Regions from separate parts of the Homo sapiens genome. Here region 1 is linked to region 2. The links come from fine-mapping of genetic effects on gene expression. A gene starts in region 2. The other region holds a variant in brackets. All regions are shown on one strand. Distances are from middle to middle.

Evidence for each region. PIP is the estimated chance that this variant, and not a neighbour inherited with it, causes the effect. A credible set is the group of variants that fine-mapping cannot tell apart.
Region 1: its variant is the best candidate, but not a certain one, in a credible set for the expression of SHANK1 in skin (TwinsUK, PIP 0.75).

What each region holds. Positions count from the first base shown.
Region 1 is chr19:50,775,878-50,780,257 of GRCh38, reverse strand. No RefSeq gene overlaps it. Among named protein-coding and RNA genes, the nearest start is that of GPR32, 7.6 kb to the right of the region's middle. RefSeq lists an enhancer at 1,821-2,645. The variant C/T (reference allele first, on the strand shown) is at 2,759.
Region 2 is chr19:50,717,197-50,721,576 of GRCh38, reverse strand. It overlaps SHANK1 (SH3 and multiple ankyrin repeat domains 1), which reads left to right and starts at 1,775. Exons shown (of 24, transcript NM_016148.5): 1 at 1,775-2,171.

The sequences.
Region 1 (4,380 bases), 59 kb before region 2:
GAGCATTGGAGATTACGGGGTTGCCCGTCACCAGGAGCAGAACCTACAACTCTGCAGCCACGCGGGGAGGGTTTCGGGAGCACGGGGCTGGGAAGGTGTCAGGAGGTGAGGATTCCCATGACAGCTATTTTCCGACACTTGATGACAGTCTGTCTCCTACGGCTGGGAACATCTCAAACCAGGCCACGATGGGGGTGCCGCCTCCCCTCCCGTATTGCCTGAGAGAAACGGAGGTAGTGATTAAGAGCGCGTGATTACCTCTCCTGCCTGGGAGGTGAATGTCTTTCTGTGTAATCATTCCGTTCAGAACTGTCTGCCCCCAGGCTGCGAGCTCTATGAGGGCAGACTCCATTCTATTCAGGCATGTTCAAATCCCCAGGGTGGCAGAGATTTGCACCTACTATGAGCTCAGCCAATACTTGTAGGGACAGGGTATAGCAAGGAGGCAGAGGCTGTAGAATCTGAAGGATGGAGAGTGTCAGCCCTGCCCTGAAATGTCAGTTTCTCCCCTGCAATGTTAGCCTCTCCCACTGAATGTTAGCACCCTTATTTGAATGTTAGCCCCTCCTCCTGTATGTCAATTTCTCCCCTGCAATGTTAGCTCCTCCCCCTGAAATGTCAATTTCTTTCCTATGATGTTAGCTCCTCCCTTCTGAAATGTCAATTTCTCTCCTGCGATGTTAGCTTCTCCCCTCTTAAATGTCAATTTTTCTCCTGCGATGTTAGCCCCTCCTCGTTGTTAGCTCCTCCCCCTAGAATGTCCATTTCTTCCCATGGATTGTCAGTTCCTCCCCTTGGCATATTACCCCCTCCCTCATAAAGGTTGGCCCCTCCTTTATTGCCTGAGAGAATCAGAGGTAGTGATTAAGAGCATGCAATTACCCTAAAATGTTAGAAACAGAGGTAGTGATTAACAGTGTATAATTGTACTAAAAATATTAGCCCCTCCTCCTGAAATGTTAGCTCCTCCTCCCTGGAATATTAGCTCCTCCCCCTGGGATGTTAGTCCCTCCCCTCTGAATGTCAATTTCTTTCCCTGGAAGATCAGTTTCTCCCTTTGGAATTTTAGCCCCGCCTCCTAAAGTTATCCACTCCCCCTAAATGCTAGCCCCTCGCCCTTAAATGTTAGCCACTGCCCCCGGCATGTCAGTGCTACTCCCTAGAATGCTAGTCCTTCAAAGGTAGGTATCTTTGTCTTCTTTGCCTTTCTCCCACACCAAAAACAGTGACCTTCACCAGACAGGCGCTCGGTAAACATAACTGGATGGGTTAATGGAGTCAGACCGGTCAAATTCCCATCCTACACTTACTTGCTTTGTGACTTTCTTCTTTTTTTTTTTTAAGACGGAGTCTCACTCTGTCGCCCAGGCTGGAGTGCAGTGGCACGATCTCGACTCACTGCAGCCTCAGCCTCCCGGGTTCAAGCAATTCTCGTGCCTCAGCCTCCAGAGTAGCTGGCGTTACAGGCATGCACCACTACACCCGGCTAATGTTTGTATTTTTAGCAGAGACGGGGGTTTCATCTTTGGCCAGGCTGGTCTCGAACTCCTGACCTCAGGTGATCCGCCCCCCTCAGCCTTCCAAAGTGCTGGGATTACAGGCGTGAGCCACCGTACCCAGCCAGCTGTGTGACCTTCGGTAAATGACTTTACCTCTCTGAGCCTCGAGTTTCCTCCTCTGTACAACGGGAATAATCGCAGCACCGCCCTCAGGGTTGTGATGCTGACTTTGGGAGTTCACATGTTTAGAAAGCTCTGGACAGGGCCTGGTACTTAGGTCACGATCAATACCTGTGAGCTGTCATTATTTAAGGGATGAAGGCGTGAATCGCAGTCTTCAGCTGTCTTAGCAATTCTGTTGGATACGAATTTTTAGTCCCTGCTTGGCAGAGTATAATCCGGAGGCTTAACTCACCTTCCACGACTCTCTCTCGCCGAGGCTGCCCAGGAAAATGCCAGATCCTCTCAAGCACGGGGCCGTGCCCAGCTCCCGCGCGCTCCCCGAGACTCAAACCCACCTCCACCACCGCGCCTGGCTCTGCCCCAGCAAAGACCACGTCTCCCCAGGGAGGATCCTGCAGCCAGCTCTAAAAACCGCAGAGCCTCCTTGGAAGAATGCTGAACCGCATTCATTAGAAAATCAATGCAAATTAAAAACCTCCCCGGGATCCCACTTTTCTCCTCTGAGAAGGCAAAGATCAAAGAGGCTGACTTGGCGGTTGCTGCGTTGGCGAAGCCGTGGGAAACAGGCTTGCAGAGCGCTCGCGGCGGCGTCTGCGACATCGAACACTCCCTCTAACCCGGCAGTTCCCCAGGAGGAATTTATGCAACAGAGGATGATACTGATCACAGCAAACACATCGCACCTCCTCGGTGCCAGGCACGGAGCCAAGCGCCCCACCCACGGCAACGCAAGTCATCCTCACAGGGACCCTCTCAGGGAGCTACTGCCATTATCCCCATTTTACATTGGTGGAAACTGAGGCACAGAGAGTGGAAGCAACTTGTGTCCCATTGTGCTCTTCTGCCTTCTTGAAGCATTCACAAAAGTACACAAACACAAACGTAAAAGAATATTATTGTTGGTTTTGTGTGTGTGTACCTGTGTGCACACATGAGAGAGAGACAGAACATGGAAAAGAGTATTTCTCCTTCCAAAGAACCAGCTTCTTACTATTGTCCATAATTTTTTACTTAAAATTAACTCCCTCTAATCTCTATGAACGCTTTCTTTCAACTTTCAGTGCACTATTTTATAG[C/T]TTTTTTTTCTTCCTGAATTGTTTGCTTTGCTAATTTCCTCTCGGACTTTCTCTCTCTCTGTCTCTCTCTCTCTCTCTCTCTCTCTCTTCTAATTACAATTAAATTAAAGGCTGAGTGCAGTGGCTCACGCCTGTAATTTCAACACTTTGGGAGGCCAAGGCAGGACGATGGCTTGAGCTCAGGTATTTGAGATCAGCCTTGGTAACATAGCAAGACCCCATCTCTACCAATAAATTAATTAATTAATTAATTAATTAAACAAATAGCTGGGCATGGTGGAGATACTGGGGAGGCTGAGGTGGGAGGATCACTTGAGCCTGGGAGGTTGAGGCTACAGTGAGCAATGGTGCCACCATACTCCAGTCTGGGTGACAGAGTGAGACCCTGTCTCAAATAAACAACAACAACAACAACAAAACAAATAAATAAGCTATAGATTTTCCTCTGAGCACAGCTTTGGCCCCATCTCATAAGATTTTTTAAAAATATTTATTTATTTATTTATTTTTGAGACAGAGTCTTGCTCTGTCACCCAGGCTGGAGTGCAGTGGCACAATCTCAGCTCACTGCAACCTCTACCTCCAGGGTTCAAGTGATTGTCCTTCCTCAGCCTCCTGAGTAGCTGGGACTACAGGCATGCACCACCACACCTGGCTAATTTTTGTATTTTTAGTGGAGATGGGGTTTCACCATGTTGGCCAGGCTGGTCTCGAACTCCTGACCAGAGGTGATCTGCCTGCCTCAGCCTCCCAAAGTGCTGGGATTACAGGTATGAGCCACCGCGCCTGGCCGTAAGTTTTTATATGTAGTGTGCTTTAAATGAAGTAGAACTTAAGTTTTAATTAACAGTTGAACCAAGATGTTATTTAGAAGGGTGTTTTGCAATGTCCAAGGCAATTGAAGCATTTTTTTCATCTTTTGTTATTAATTTCTAAATTTGAATATGGCCTGTATTACCTCTGCTTTGGGGAATCAACCTATGTTTTATTTGTGACCTAATGCATAGTCTTTTTTTTTTTTTTTTTTTTCAAGGAGAGGCAGAGAATATCATTGCAGGATCCTGCTTTTTAAAAAATGCTCCATGCCAAGGGCAGCGGCTCACACATGTAATCTCAACACTTCGGGAGGCTGAAGCAGAAAGATTGCTTGAGGCCAGGAATTCAAGACCAGCCTGGGCAACATAGCAAGATTCTGTCTCTACAAAAAAAAATTTAATGAGGGCATGATGGCACATGCCTGTCGTCCCAGCTACTTGGGAGGCTGAGGCAGGAGGATTGCTCGAGGCTGCAGGGAGCTATGACCATGCCACTCTACTCCCGCCTGGTCAACAAAGCAAGAACCTGACTCAAAAAAAAAAATTGCTCTAAAGTTTATTATTGGAACAGTTAGGAAATTTGAATATGGCCTGTTTATTAGATAATACCAATGGTAAAGTTCTTGAGGGAGATAATAATATTATAATTTTACAGGGAAAATGCTCTTGTTCTTAGAAGATACAGGCTGAAGAATTAATAGGTAAAATATCGTGACGTCCTACCTGCGCCGACTTTAACACAGTTCAACATTTTTGGGAGGTACCTCTGAGCATTGTGCCCCTTGCAGCACAGTGGGTATGCTGAGG
Region 2 (4,380 bases):
CTGGCTCCAAGAGCAGGGCATCTGCCCTCGGCTGCCGGGAGCCCCAGGAGGGGCCTTGGAAATCAGTGCCTCCAGCCTTCCGTTTTCCAAGAAATCCTGGTACATCGAGGGCACTGTGACCTTGGGCAGACTGCTCCCTGCCTCAGAGCCTGGGCCTCTCAGGTGCCCATCGGGAACCTGGGGCCCCTCACCAGGAGCTACAGACCTCAAGAAATAATGCGTATGTGGGGAAAGGCCTTGTAAAGTGTGCAGGGGTGCACAGCCTCTCTGGCTGCTGGAGCCAACATGGGCAGCTGTGCTTTCCCCGGGCCCAGCTGCTCACCACCTGGGCTAGTGGGTACGCATCAAGATAGAGGCCTCCCCAGGCTGAGCAGGCACCTCCTCCAGCTCATACTCGGGTACCCCGGAGAGCCTGCAGCTGGAGGGGAACCCAGAAGCTGCCTAGAACTGCCCCCTGCAGGCCCTGGAGGTGCTGTTGGAGCTGGGAGAATGAGGAAGCCTGGGCTAAGGGGACACTCACCACTCACTGCTGCCCTGTGGGATCTGCTCTGTCCCTGTGGGTGCGTCCCAGGCATGAATGAGCTGTCTGCCTGCAGCTGGCTGCATATGCGTGCCTACACAGACATGTGCAAACTCTGAGGAGACGGTTGGGTGTGTCTGTGTGTGATGAATAAGGATATGCAACTATGAGGGGATATGCCCAGTAGTGCACCATAGTTGTCAAGTGAGGACTTTGGAGCCAGCCTACCTGTTCCTGATCCTTGTTACCACCTCCTTACAGCTGGATGACCTTGGGCAAGTTACTTAGCCTCTCTGTTCCTTGGTTTCCCCCTCTGGAAAATGGGGATGGCGAAAGTCCCTGAGCCTGGCACACAGAAAGTGCTCCAGGAATGTCAGCAGTAACTATCCTGGAGGGGAAGGATGGCACGGTGTTGGGCATGTAAACGGGTGAGTGCGAGCCAGTGCAATGGACAGCACGGTGGGTGGGTGTGATGGGAAGGCGTGCACACGTCTCTACAGTGCTGTAACTCCGTTTTGGTGTTGAGAGATCTGGGCATGCATACCGGGGTGAACGCCTGTGTGCGTGTGTGCGCGCGCACGTGCGTGTGTGGTGGGCAAATGTGTGCATGTGCTGCGTGTGTGCCCGGGCACAGGGGTGTGACAACTGCATGTAGCTGGGTGTGTTTGTAGCTGTGTACCCCAGGTGCATTGTGTCTGGGCATGCATGCGCTGGAGAGTGTGTGTATGTGGGGACTCTGCAGGTGCCGTTACAGCTGGTGACTATGCACCTGTGCCTTGGGGAAATGTGGCCTGGCCCAGGTATGTCCACGTGTGCCCTGACCCAGTGCTTAAATGGAAAGGGTGTGTGTGTGTTTGGGGGGACAGGGTGGGAATCTATAGCCTTCACACTTAAATTTGGGGGTGTAGAGTCTGGCAACAAATATTTATTGTGCCCCACTCTGTGTAGGGCGGCGGGGAGCTCTCTGGGAGGGGGTGGTCCTGAGGTGTGTGTGGGGGGGCACCTTATGGGGGCAGGACCCCTTCCTCGGGGTATGGGAGCAAGCAGGGGCGGAGTCAGGATTTGGGGACTCGGAGGTGGGGAGGAGTGGTGGGGGAGGGCAAGGGTAGGGGGCGGAGCCGGCGGTGGTGGGGGATGGGCGAGGTTTGGGGGCGCGGGGAGGGGCGATGTCTCCTCCGCCGGCTCCCGGAGGGAGGGGAGAGGGCGGAGGGAGGGGAGGGAGGGAGAGAGGGAGGGAGAGAGACAGGGTGAGGGAGAGACAGCGAGAGCGAGAGAGCGAGAAGGGTGGCAGAGGAGGCGCGGAGCGGGCGGCGGCGGCGGCGGCCCGAGGAAGAGGAGGAGGAAGAGCAGGCGGAGACGCGGCGCCCGGAGCCGGCCGGACCGAGCCGGGGGCGGGCGAGGAGGGGCGCGGCGGCCGCGGCGGAAGGGGGGGCGCTCTGCGGATGGCCAGGCCCGGCCCGCGGGGGGGGTGAGGTCCTCGGCCCTCCCGCCCTCCCCCCCGGTCCCCGCCCGCCCCCTCCCCGGGCCCGCTCGCCCTCCGGGGCGGTGGGGCATGGCCTGAGGGTCCCCGTCTCCGGGGGGGTGGGGGGTGGGGGGAGGGGGGAGGGGCCGCGGGCGCCGCCGACCGGGACTCAGCAGCCCCGCCAGGCAGGTAAGGGGGTCGAGAACCTGGGGGTTTGGGGCAGCTGCGGGGCCGGGGCCGCGGGAGGGGGCGAGGGCGCCCCGGATGTCCTTGGCCCGGCGCCGGGCTCCTGGCCTGGGTGTGCGGCTGGGGGTACGGGTGAGGTGGGGAGCGTTGCCCTGGGCGACACCAAATTGGGTTACGCCCGGGTCCCCGGTGCCCCGTCCCAGATCGCATCCTTGATGGGAGGGCGCGCCCCCCACCCCCGGCCAGCAGAGCCCCTATCCCGAACCCGCCTCCCGGCTCTCCGGGGCCAAGGGCTCGGTCCTGGTACCCGCCTCCCCGCCCAGCCCGGCCACTCCCCCGCCTCGCCCTCCCTGGCGTACCTGGGCCCCTCCGCCAGGTCACCCTGGTCCCCACTCCCCTCCAGCGAGGGTCTAGGCCCGGGCCTCCTCCGCCCCTTTCGACCCCTCCAGCTCCCGCTTCTCCTTCCAGGCTCCTCCAGTCCCTTTCCACCCCTGTCCAAGCTCCCTGCGTCCCCACCAGGTCTCCAGTCCCTACACCGCCGGCCGGCGCGCCCCCTCGGCTCCCGCCCCCGACTCCTGCTCCCCGGTGCCCCCCGCCCCTCTCCCCGGCCGGGTTCTCCCCCACCAGTTTCCCAGCCTCGGCTCCGGCTCTCTCTCCCCGCCCCTCCCCGCCTCCCTCCGCCTCCATTCATTCTCCCCGGCCCCGCTCTCGGCCACGCCAGCCGCCCCCTGTCCCCCCACAGCCTCCCAGGGCACCCCCTCTCTCGCGTCCTCCACCACCCCCCTCGCCGATTCCTCAGCCCGTCTCGGTACCAGCTGCGTGCCAGCTATTCTTAGCCGCGGAGCGTTTGATTCATGCCGCCCCGGCGGAGCGTGCCCGCTCCCTCCCGCGAGCCCTGAGGGGGAGGGGCCGGAGCCGGCCCGGGGGGGCTGGGGCAGCCGTACGCGCGGGGGGCCCTAGCCAGCTTTTCTTTCATCCCACCGGCCACCCCCTCCGAGCGGGGTTGAGGCTGGGGGTCAGCCAGGGTCAGCCGAGGGGGAGTGTCTGCGGGCCCCAGATCGCGAGGTGGGCTGTGCGGCGGGGCAGGGAGGAGGCAGCCGGGGTCTCCGCAGGGACGAGGTGGGGCGGCGTGGCTGGGTACCTGGAGGGGGAGGGGGCTTCGCAGCGCTGCCGCGCGTGGGGGAGGGGTCCGCCGGCCCTGGGTTAGAGGCTCGCTCGCCCACACCTCCTGGAACTCTCCTCCCACCACACACATTTAGTCTTCCCTTTCCCAACCCCCCAGCCCATCCCCACTCCCCCAAAGTCAGCAGTACCCTCCACTGCTTCCCATCTCCATGGCAACGGTGCAGGAACCGGGCCTGGTGTTGGGGGGAGGGACCAGACCAGACATTCTGGTTTCCGGTGCTGGGGTGGGAGTTGGGGGAGAACAGAAGGGAGGCGGACCCCATTTGGAAGGGGCTCCACCCTCATAAGGCCACCTCAAGGGAGAACAGCAAGGATCTAGAGATGATCCCCCACTCAGTTCCCCAGACCCTCCTCTCACTTCTTAGCCTCCCTCCTAACACCCCCAGTCCTCAGAGTGGAGCCCCTAGTACCCAGCAAGCCAGCCCACCCACCCTGCAGTCCTAGAAAAGAGCTACAGGTCATCTGCAGCCACCCACATCTACCCGGGCCACCACACCACTGTCACCTGGACAGCACTCCCCAGGCCGACCTCCCCACCTACCCGCACACCCTCTCAAGATGCCCCAGTCTCCAAAAGCCACCTCTTGTGGTTCCCTTGGGGACACCCTAGGCCAAATGCTCTGCCCATGACACCCCCATCTCAGTGCCCCTTGCTCCCCTGGGACGGCAGATTCCCCAGCACTATTCGGCATGCCACGCGTTGTCAGCCACACTTGAGTGAAGTCACCAGCTCCACCCGCTCCAGGCTCACCACACCTCCCTCTCCCCCTTACTACATCTCAGTGTCAGCCTCAGCTTCTCCCCAACCCCACCCCCCGGCCCTGGGATGAGGGGCCAGGCTGGGGCCAGGAGGGCAGGATGCCTGTCAGTTTGTCCACCTGTCTGTCCTTAGCTAATTTTAGCTGCATTTTCTGTGGCCTGGCAAAGTGGGCCAGTAGCTCCCGCGGTGATTCTGCGGTTTCTGGGACACGGCCACGCTGGGTCACCAGCAAAGTGGGGCGCAGGGGGCGGGCTGCAAGCGGGGCCA